Regions from separate parts of the Homo sapiens genome. Here region 2 is linked to region 1. The links come from fine-mapping of genetic effects on gene expression. A gene starts in region 1. The other region holds a variant in brackets. All regions are shown on one strand. Distances are between the middles of the regions.

Region 1 (5,383 bases):
GCCTCAGCCTCCCAAGTAGCTGGGATTACAGGCACCCGTACTTACTACTAAATATATATATATATATACATATATATATATATATATATACACATATATATATGTAAAGTGGTGCTACAGGCCGGGCACAGTGGCTCACGCCTATAATCCCAGCACTTTGGGAGGCTGAGGCGGGTGGATCACCTGAGGTCAGGAGTTCCAGACCAGACTGGCCAACATGGTGAAACCCTGTCTCTACTAAAAATACAAAAATTAGCTGGGCGTGGTGGCGGGCGCCTATAATCCTAGTTACTCCAGAGGCCAAGGCAGGAGAATTGGTTCCCATCCCCAGCTTCAACCTGGGAGGCGGAGGTTGCAGTGAGCCAAGGTCGCGCCACTGCACTCCAGCCAGACTCGGTCTCAAAAAAAAAAAAAAAATAGTGCTATGATAAAGCCTCTCATAAGGAATAATTATCAAAATTAAAATTCAGATGCACAGGACGATTTTAGAGGAAAATAAAAATTAAGGTATAAAAAGCAATCAATAGAGAGTACCTAACATACCAAAAAGTTGAAAAGCAAAAGAGGCAACCATACACAGTGGGTTGCGAGGGGGGTGTTGTTGAAAAGGCACGACTATTTTAAGCGTGTAGAATTTTAGGGATATAAGGATGAAAGCAGAGATCTCATGCAGACCTTATTCTAAATTGGCAGAGATAGTTCTTTTCAGAGTGAGGTGCACAGATAATTTATTAATAGAAAGTTAGCCTGCTTCCTTCCATGTCTTTAACAAAATCCTTTCATTTCATGATCAAAATGCAAATGTAGCCAAGAGTTCTGCAATTCACATGACTTAAAGGGAGGTTCACAAATGCTACCATTGAGGGGAGAAATGGTATTCAAAAAGTTTTGAAAATTTTATTTTTGATCTCACGGGTTGATTTAAATACTGTGTAACACCACATCCCCTCTCCTTCATTTTTTGTTTTACTTCACTTTTTTGTGTTCTTACTCTCTTTATAATCTTCATTTCACACCAAGTTTTCTCAGAAGAGATCTTGATGATGCAGCCAACACAAACCATCAGTTCTCAATTGTACATCAGTGATTCCACCAGAGAAAATGTGAGTTTTCTGTTCAAATGGGATCCTGTGGCCATATACATAAGGAACCTAAGTACAGCTAACCTAAGAAAATAGGCTAGAAGTGAGGTCTTATACTCTACCTTTTTCCAAGGAAATATACAAGACAGTAAATTTATATTTATATACACACACATATATATATTCATACATAAATCCACTTACAAAATAAAACTATTAAGTGTTGATACATCGAAAAGGATAGAAAAATAAGCTGAATATTAAGAGTAACATTCTCAGAAAAACAGCAAGGTAGATACTGAACAAGTGAAAAATTAGATGCAAAGGCTCTAAAAGTGTAATTCTTTGAAAAGAAAACCAGGACCAGTGCAGAAAAAGCCAGCAGCCCCTCTGCAAGTGCTACATAAGAAAATGAGGCCGGGCATGGTGGCTCACGCCTGTAATCCTAGCATTTTGGGAGGCCGAGGCATGTGGATCACCTGAAGTCAGGAGTTCGAGACCAACCTGGCCAACATGGGGAAACTCCGTCTCTACTAAAAATACAAAAAATTAGCCGGGTGTTCTGGCGGGCACCTGTAATCCCAGCTACTCCAGAGGCTGAGGCAGGAGAATCGCCTGAACCCGGGAGGCGGAGGTTGCAGTGAGCCGAGGTTGCGCCATTGCACTCCACCCTGGGCAACTACAGCAAGACTGTGTCTCAAAAAAGAAAAAAAGAGCCTACGGTGAAGGAGAGAGAGATACAGCAGTGAGAATTTCATAGGGTTATCTTTTAACAGAGACGGAAGCTGACGTGAGTAGACCCTGGAAAACGTCTAGGCCCACTGCAAATAACAACATCGATCAAACACTCATAATACAGGTGGATGTGAGTAAAAAGGAGACAAAGAAAGAAGACTACAAGAGAGAGGCCATCTGAAATAATATAAAAATAATTGATCATCTTTGATATGTTTTTACATGGTTGTCTTATTTAAATATTCACAACTCCTGGAGGTAGGGTTTTATTTTACAGAAAAAAAAAAAAAAAAAACTAAACAGGCTCAATGATGTTTAAGTATCTAGTCCAAGCTCACCACAGGGGCATAAAGTGGCAGAACCGACATTAGAGGGTAGACAGAGGGTAACCGCAAGACACAAATTTCGTGTTCTGCAACACTTGTGTAGGCTTCACACACACGTGCCTCCGGGGCCGAAAACAGGCGACACCATAGCACTTGGGCACTGGTGTCACCCGCTTCAAGAGGAAACTAGGATAATTATGACCAAAGGGGAACTTGTTCATTCGCCGGATATTAAAGGTGCCTACTTAAGTGCGAAGAACAGGAGGCATAGCGGTGACCAAACACCTGGCCCCTGTCCCCGCCGGGATCCCAACCTTGGGGACCCCCGAAGCGCCCCGGGCGGGAATCGGGTGGGACGCGGCACGCAGGAGGGAACGGGTGTACTGGGTGGGGTGGGCGTGACGCTGTCACCGCAGGAGATCGGGCGGGTAGGGCGGACCTGGGATGCGGGATAGAGGGGGCGCGGCATTCGCGCGAGAGGGACGCGGTGCGCAACCGGCTGACTAGGGGCCGCAACGCCTAGCGCGCGCGACAAACTACGCAGCGGCGGAGACAACTCTCAAGGGATAGGGCCATCAGCCCTGCGGCCCTGGCAGGTCCCTACCAAAGATCTTGGAAGATGCCGTTTGGGGCACTAAGGGGACCTGAAGTCCTCCCCAGGCTCATTCCCGCCTGGGGGCCTTGGCTCTGGGAAGGCACGCAAGGTAAAGGGAGCGCAACGGAAACTCACCGTCCATGGTCTCCCGCACCGCATTCAGATTCGCCGCCGCGGCCGCCGCCGCCGCCCCAGCACCGCTGCTACTCGCCATGGCTAAGGCCGAGGGAGGCGGGAGAAGGGCCTGACCCGGAACTGGAGCGCCTTCCTCTCTCCGAGGCAATCACACAGCGCGTCTCGGCCCACGCCGGGCAGGCTCCGCCCCTCGCGCTCGCCGCCGGCGTGAGGCTGCGTTGATTTGAATTTGGAGCCACGTTCCTCTGCGCGGAACGTGGAGCGAGGAGTTGCCATTCGAATTTCCTACGCGGCCTCCGTGCGATTGGCTGGTTCGCGGATGGCGGGACGACACGATTGGCTAGTCGCTCACAAGCCCCGTGCCCTGGTTGGCCCAAGACAGCGCGGAAGCGGGGAGTTAAAGAGTCTATGCCTGTCGTGGAAGCTGGCCTGGCCCCCGGAGCTCCCTGGAGTCGGTACTGGGGGCTTCGTTTTGTACGCACCGGTAGGTACGCTCTTTGTGGTCCCTGGCCTTTCCTCCTGTCTGAATGGAGAGGTTTCTTTTCCCAGCTCCTGACTTGCCTGCCCGCTCGCCCCTGGTGAATGGGAGCAGTCAGGGAGTAGGTGTGGAAGAGAGGGGCACCAGAAAGAGTGGCCACGTAGGGTTGGGGGCGACGCCTCCTTCGCACTCCATCCAGGGAAGCCGGCTGCATCTCAACCTTCCAGAAGTAGACTCTTTTCCACCCCACCCCGCCAAGGTGTAGCCTCTGTAGCCTCCTTTGATTGCAAGTAATGCAGTCTCCCTTTCTATCCCGGGAGGGGTGGAGGGGAGGTCTTGGCGAAAGGAGGATTTTTGGAGGAAAGGGGACCCCAGGCAGTTAATTTCCTAGCCCCTGTCAATCATACTTCTCTGGCTAGGACTCATGTGCAAGAAAGGCACAAGCTTCCTCATCTCTTACCTGCTTGCTACAAAGAATTGTTTAATAGCAACTGTAGTTGGATAGGGTATCCGAAGAATGTTCATAGTGTTGAGACATGAGATGATGAATTTAAAAAAAATTGTAGCTATAAGTCCTTTAGTTGAGAAGAGATCTGGGCCTGTTGTAACCTTTAGTTTCCTCAGAGGCAGATCTGAATTCATTCATATTTGATTGCTGCGTATAAGCCACTTCACTTCTCTGAGCTTAATACTTTCGCAAAATAATATCACTAGTAAGTTACTGCTATAGCTTTCAAGGTTGTTTCGAGGATCAGTTGAGAACATTTATATGTGATACTTTTTTTGTAAGCTGTATCATAGCCCCAAGAGTGTGAGGTTTTGAGTTGTTTTTTGTGACACATTTGTCGAGTACATTTTAATAGTTAAAATTAATATCTATGGGACTTTGTAATTTTAACATGCATACTCTTGATTTCTTTTTAGTTTTCTCTCTGTGCTATGGGAGATGTCAAGGAATCAAAGATGCAAATAACACCAGAAACTCCAGGAAGGATCCCTGTTTTAAATCCTTTTGAAAGTCCTAGTGATTATTCTAATCTCCATGAACAAACTCTCGCCAGTCCTTCTGTTTTTAAATCAACAAAATTACCAGTAAGTTATTCCTGACTAGTGTTTACAACTAATTTTAAATGTAAGTAATTACAAATAATTTTAAATGTAAACATCTGTCTTTACAAGGTAAGGAGGAAATACATTATGGAGCATATATAGCTGCAATATACTTTTTTAAATTGTAGTGTTCATTATAATCTAGTGGTTAGGTTAATAAGTTAGCTAGAAGATTTTTTTTTTTTTAAGTTCAAGAACATACGTTAGCTTCCTGCAGTTGTGGGTGTAGCTACATTCTGTGGTTGACGATATAGCTACTAATACATTAGAGAAGAAGCTGCATCATCTAATATTCTGTTCTCACTTATTTGGCAAACATTATTTGAGTGTTGCTATGTGTCAGATACAGTGCTAAGCAGGGATTACACTGTGAACAAGTTAGGATCATTAGGCACAAATCCTTAAGGAGGTTATACTCCGATGTATGGGTCACAAACTTTCTGTTAGGGGCCAGACAGTAAATATTTAAGCTTTACAGGTCATTTGGTCTCTGTCACAACTACTCACTTCTGTCTTGTATCACAAAAGCAGCCATAGGCAATGTGTAAAGAGATAAATGTTACTCTGTTCCAATACAGCTTTATTTATGGACACATTTGAATTTCATATAATTTTCACATGTCACAAGATATTTTTTTGTTTGTTTTCCCAACCATTTGAAACTGTCAAAATAATTCTTAGCTTGCAATCTATTATAAAAAGAAACTAACCCCTATTTTAATGTGTTAAACAGAACTAGATGAGTAATATCAAGGCAGTGTGATAGGTGATATGATTAGTACTTAGGACAATAGTAATATGAAGGAAAAGTGTTCTTCAGGATATTAGAAAAGGCTTCATCACTTTATCTTTTTTTTTTTTTTGGTAGAGATGGGATTTCACCATGTTGGCCAGGCTGATCTCGAACTCCTGACCTCATGTG
Region 2 (5,383 bases), 21 kb before region 1:
TTCTTGCCAAGAGAACTAAGAACACATTAAGTACTCTAAGAGTTGAGACAGCTTCTTGAAACATGTGAAGGAAAATTATCAGAAAAAGAAGCCAAAGAGAAAGGTACCTGGGTGCAACTGAAGTGCCAGCCTGCTCCACCCAGAGAAGCACACTTTGTGAGAACCAATGGGAAGGAGTCTGAGCTGCTGGAGCCTATTCCCTATAAGTTCATGGCACAATAGGTGTTAAAATAAAAGACCTCTGGACTGCTAAAAAAAAAAAAATTCTGCCCTATTCTAATGGACAGTGTCACTTGTTAACAGATTTCCTGAGACTGCTATTTAGGGCTGTCACATGCACCATCTTTTTTTTTTTTTTTTTTTTTAATTAAAGTTCTAGGGTACATGTGCACAACATGCACGTTTGTTATATATGTATACATGTGCCATGTTGGTGTGCTGCACCCATTAACTCGTCATTTACATTAGGTATATCTCCTAATGCTTTACCCGACCCCCTCCCCCCACCCCAGGACAGGCCCCAGTGTGTGATGTTCCCCTTCCTGTGTCCAAGTGTTCTCATTGTTCAGTTCCCACCTATGAGTGAGAACATGCGGTGTTTGGTTTTCTGTCCTTGAGATAGTTTGCTGAGAATGATGGTTTCCAGCTTCATCCATGTACCTACAATGGACATGAACTCATCCTTTTTAATGGCTGCATAATATTCCATGGTGTGTATGTGCCACATTTTCTTAATCCGGTCTATCATTGATGGACATTTGGGTTGGTTCCAAGTCTTTGCTATTGTGAATAGTGCCGCAATAAACATATGTGTGCATGCATCTTTATAGTAGCATGATTTAAAATCCTTTGGGTATATACCCAGTAAAGATGACTGGGTCAAATGGGATTTCTAGTTCTAGATCCTTGAGGAATCACCACACTGTCTTCCACAATGGTTGAACTAGTTTACAGTCCCACCAACAGTGTAAAAGTGTTCCTATTTCTCCACATCCTCTCCAGCACCTGTTGTTTCCTGACTTTTTAATGATCGCCATTCTAACTGGTGTGAGATGGTATCTCATTGTGGTTTTGATTCGCATTTCTTTGATGGCCAGTGATGATGAGCATTTTTTCATGTGGCTGTTGGCTGCATAAATGTCTTCTTTTGAGAAGTGTCTGTTCATATCCTTTGCCCACTTTTTGATGGGGTTGTTTTTTCTTGTAAATTTGTTTGAGTTTTTTGTAGATTCTGGATATTAGCCCTTTGTCAGATGAGTAGATTGCAAAAATTTTCTCTCATTCTGTAGGTTGCCTGTTCACTGTATGGTAGTTTCTTTTACCGTGCAGAAGTTCTTTAGTTTAATTAGATCCCATTTGTCAATTTTGGCTTTTGCTGCCATTGCTTTTGGTGTTTTAGACATGAAGTCCTTGCCCATGCCTATGTCCTGAATGGTATTGCCTAGGTTTTCTTCTAGGGTTTTTATGGTTTTAGGTCTAACATTTAAGTCTTTAATCCATCTTGAATTAATTTTTCTATAAGGTGTAAGGAAGGGATCCAGTTTAGCTTTCTACATATGGCTAGCCAGTTTTCCCAGCACCATTTATTAAACAGGGAATCCTTTCCCCATTTCTTGTTTTTGTCAGGTTTGTCAAAGATCAGATGGTTGTAGATATGCAGCATTATTTCTGAGGGCTCTGTTCTGTTCCATTGGTCTATATCTCTGTTTTGGTACCAGTACCATGCTGTTTTGGTTACTGTAGGCTTGTAGTGTAGTTTGAAGTCAGGTAGCGTGATGCCTCCAGCTTTGTTCCTTTGGCTGAGGATTGTCTTGGCAATGTGTGCTCTTTTTTGGTTCCATATGAACTTTAAGGTAGTTTTTTCCAATTCTGTGAAGAAAGTCATTGGTAGCTTGATGGGGATGGCATTGAATCTATAAATTACCTTGGGCAGTATGGCCATTTTCATGATTCTTCCATGAGCATGGAATGTCCTTCCATTTGTTTGTGTCCTCTTTTATTTCGTTGAGCAGTGATTTGTAGTTCTCCTTGAAGAGGTCCTTCACATCCCTTCTAAGTTGGATTCCTAGGTATTTTATTCTCTTTGAAGCAATTAAAAATATGGAACACTTCACGAATTTGTGTGTCATCCTTGTGCAGGGGCCATGCTAATCTTTGCTGTATCGTTCCAATTTTAGTGTATGTGCTGCCAAAGTGAGTACCACATGCACCATCTTTTTTACAACATTTACAATACTCCAGTCTGGTATATATGAGCCCAACAGTGAACTTCATAAAAGAGAGATCTTTTTGTTGTTAGAACTGGGTTTCTCAAGTATAGCACCTCTGGAAAGGGAATGACTTTAACCTGTTATTTATTTACATTGTTGTAATTAAAAAGCAGTAATATAGATCTGCTGAGATGCTACAAAACTTCACCAACCTACCATCATCAATGGTATATTCCCTAAGAATGGGACAATCCTGGGAAAGAGAAGCATCTGTCACTAGTCTTCTATTAAATTCTCAGCATCTACATCCAGAGCTTCGACTACCACTTTGGCCATCTGATTTTCAATCTCCTTCATCTTCCTCTCCAGTTGTGCCTCTTCATCCCA[T/A]GAGATGATGTATAGTAACAGGCACTAAGGTGTGTGGGCTCCAGACTCAATTTACCAGGGTTCAAATCCTGGCTCTACCACTTCTGAGATTTAAGTTGTATACCACTTTGTGCCTCAGCTTCCTGACCTATAATAGGATGATGCTATCTATCTCTCGTGGTTGCTGTAAGCCTAAAGGTTAAACAATTTGATCTATTAAAAGCACCAAAACCAGTGCCTTGCATGCAGCAAGTTCTCAATGTTAGTTATTTTCAACCACGTGGTACATGTTGTTTCCTGGATGCCCAGTCTATCCATTCATTCAGCCAACATGTATTTATTGAGCATTTCTTATGTGCTAGGCACTGTTCAAGACACTTAAGATACACCAGTGGCAACACAGAAATATCCCCGCCCCTGTGGGACTTTCAGGTAGAGGTATATTTGTTTATATTAATAGATAAAACTAAGTAAATTGTATACTATGTTAGAGAGTGGTAATGCTGTAGGACAAAAAAAAATGGAGATGGGCAATGGTCTTTGGAAGATTGGCAAGGTTTAAGATTTAATATATATGTTAAACACAATACTCTTTAAATAAAAATCATTTTTTTCCAGGAAAATTATATTCCCTTCTTGATTTCCATTTGCTGATAATATCTTTGTTACCCAGGCTTAGAAACTCAGTCACCTTATTTTCTTTTCTATTTTCCCCATAACCTGCCATTAAGTCCTATGTTTATTTTTTGTAATGTCTCTTGAATCTACCCAGATGTGAGCATTGAGGCCTGGGTTACTCAGTAGTGTTCTAACTAGTCTCTGCTTCTAACCTCTCCCTGCTCAAATCAAGCCTACATGTCACTAGCAAAGCAACTCCCAAAAAAAGCTTGACCATGTCCCCTTCTTTCTCTAATGCCTATGGAATTAAAGTTAAACTTAAAAAAAAATGTTTAAAAGCTGGCAATTCCACTGCTGGGTATACACTCCAAAGAACTGACAAGGACCTGAACAGTTATTTGTATACCAATGCCCATAACATTGTGGCTATTGTGAATAGCCTTTTCAGAATAGACAAAAGGTAGAAACAACCCAAATGTCCACCATATATATAAAAGAATACCTGTCTCCCATGTATATATGAGACATATTCATCCTTAAAGAGGAAATCTGGATACATGTTATAACATGGATAGATCTTGGAGACGTGCTGTGTAAAATAAGACGAACACAAAAGGACAAATATGATTCCACTTATATGAGGTATCCAGAATAGTCAAATTCATTGACAAAAAAGTAGGAAACTGTTTACCAGGGGCTGGGAGGAGGAAGCAATGGGGAGTTACTGCTAAACAGGTACAGAGTTTCAGTTTGGGATAAGAAAGTTCAAGAGATGGACAATAGTGATAGTTACAATACAATAAGAATATTCTGAATGTCACTGAACTATGAAACTTAAAAATGGTTAAAAAGGGCAGGGCATTGTAGCTCATGCCTATAATCCCAGCACTTTGGGAGGTTGAGGCAGGCAGATCATCTGAGGTCAGGAGTTTGAGACCAGCCTGGCCAACATGGTGAAGCCCCGCCTCTACTAAAAATACAAAAAATTAGCCAGGTATGGTGGCAGGTGCCTGTAATCCCAGCTACTCGGGAGGCTGAGGCAGGAGAATCATTTGAACCCAGGAGGCGGAGGCTGCATTGAGCCAAGATCATGCCAATGCACTCCAGCCTGGGTGACAGAGTGAGACTCCATCTCAAAAAAAAAAAAAAAAAAAGGTTAAAATGGTAAATTTTATGTTCTGTATCTTTTGTCCTATAGAAACACAAGTTGAATTAACAAAAGCATATATTAAAACAAAAGTACAGGCCAATACCACCAAAATGGTTTTATTTTTGTCATTGACAACAAGCACAACACTGCAATTGTATCATTATTTTGTTTAGTTTCTTAAATATTACTTAAGTATGCATTAAAAATATGTTTACATTTTAAAAATGTGACACTTTAAAGAAGTCCTCTGTAAACACGATCCCTTCTCAATATATTTTCCTGCTTTGTTTCATACATAAATAACTTAATCTACAAAGTCATAAATAATACTATCAACTCTTATGGCCTGGAAGTATATACAAATTTTGGAGTCTGACAAAAGTGTTCTTTATGATTTTATAAATAACACATAGTATTTGTAGTGTTGATTATAAATCAAATGACTTTTTACAAATTCCTACTGTCTCCTCAACCTGTTCTACCAGTAACAGATCTTCCAGTTTACTTGGTTGGTAAAGATGCCAGGCATTTAAAAAGTCAAAATGGTCAAAATTCTATATTAAAAAAAAAAAAAGGCAGAGAAGGTTGCTATTTAAATATTACCAAATCTTAATAAAACCACTTCAGCTTGTCTGAAAAACAAAAAATGCTAGTAAAGAGTGAATGCTTGTACAATCATATAAATGGTACTCAATAAAATCTAAAATTTAAGAAATAATAAAATCAGATGAAATCCATATTAGTTTTGCAAAAAAACTCCACTGAGATTCTATTACAGGAACAGAATCAATACTATTCTACATTTTCTAAAATTTATTTCTAATCTTCACTTTGATGAGTTAAAATTTTAAAGGCAAGAATAATGACAAACAAAACAATTCTGAAAAGCCATACTTATAATCCTTGACATCAAGATGTTAAAAAGGTTTTTTAAAAAAAGCCATACTTGAGATTCCTAATATAGAACATTTGATTGTTTAGTTTTGTTTAATGACTGGAAATCCTTATTTCTTCAAAAAATAGCAAGTATCCTTTGAAA

Alleles and levels. Alleles are on the strand shown, and positions count from the first base shown. SD is a standard deviation of normalised expression in the study named.
With allele T in place of A in region 2, the expression in anterior cingulate cortex of the gene that starts at base 2,979 in region 1 is lower (small effect, 0.19 SD a copy in GTEx).

What was found. PIP is the estimated chance that this variant, and not a neighbour inherited with it, causes the effect.
Region 2: its variant is fine-mapped to the expression of MZT1 in anterior cingulate cortex (GTEx, PIP above 0.99).

Annotation. Positions count from the first base shown.
Region 1 is chr13:72,724,651-72,730,033 of GRCh38, forward strand. It overlaps MZT1 (mitotic spindle organizing protein 1), which reads right to left and starts at 2,979. Exons shown (of 3, transcript NM_001071775.3): 1 at 2,874-2,979. The coding sequence starts at 2,952. It overlaps BORA (BORA aurora kinase A activator), which reads left to right and starts at 3,273. Exons shown (of 12, transcript NM_024808.5): 1 at 3,273-3,357; 2 at 4,276-4,443. The coding sequence starts at 4,291. RefSeq lists silencers at 2,425-2,484, 2,440-2,621, 3,145-3,294 and enhancers at 2,715-2,784, 3,505-3,554.
Region 2 is chr13:72,703,923-72,709,305 of GRCh38, forward strand. MZT1 (mitotic spindle organizing protein 1) reads right to left here. Exons shown (of 3, transcript NM_001071775.3): 3 at 4,445-5,383. It also overlaps the pseudogene RPL21P110 and the pseudogene RNU6-80P. Among named protein-coding and RNA genes, the nearest start is that of MZT1, 21 kb to the right of the region's middle. The variant T/A (reference allele first, on the strand shown) is at 2,598.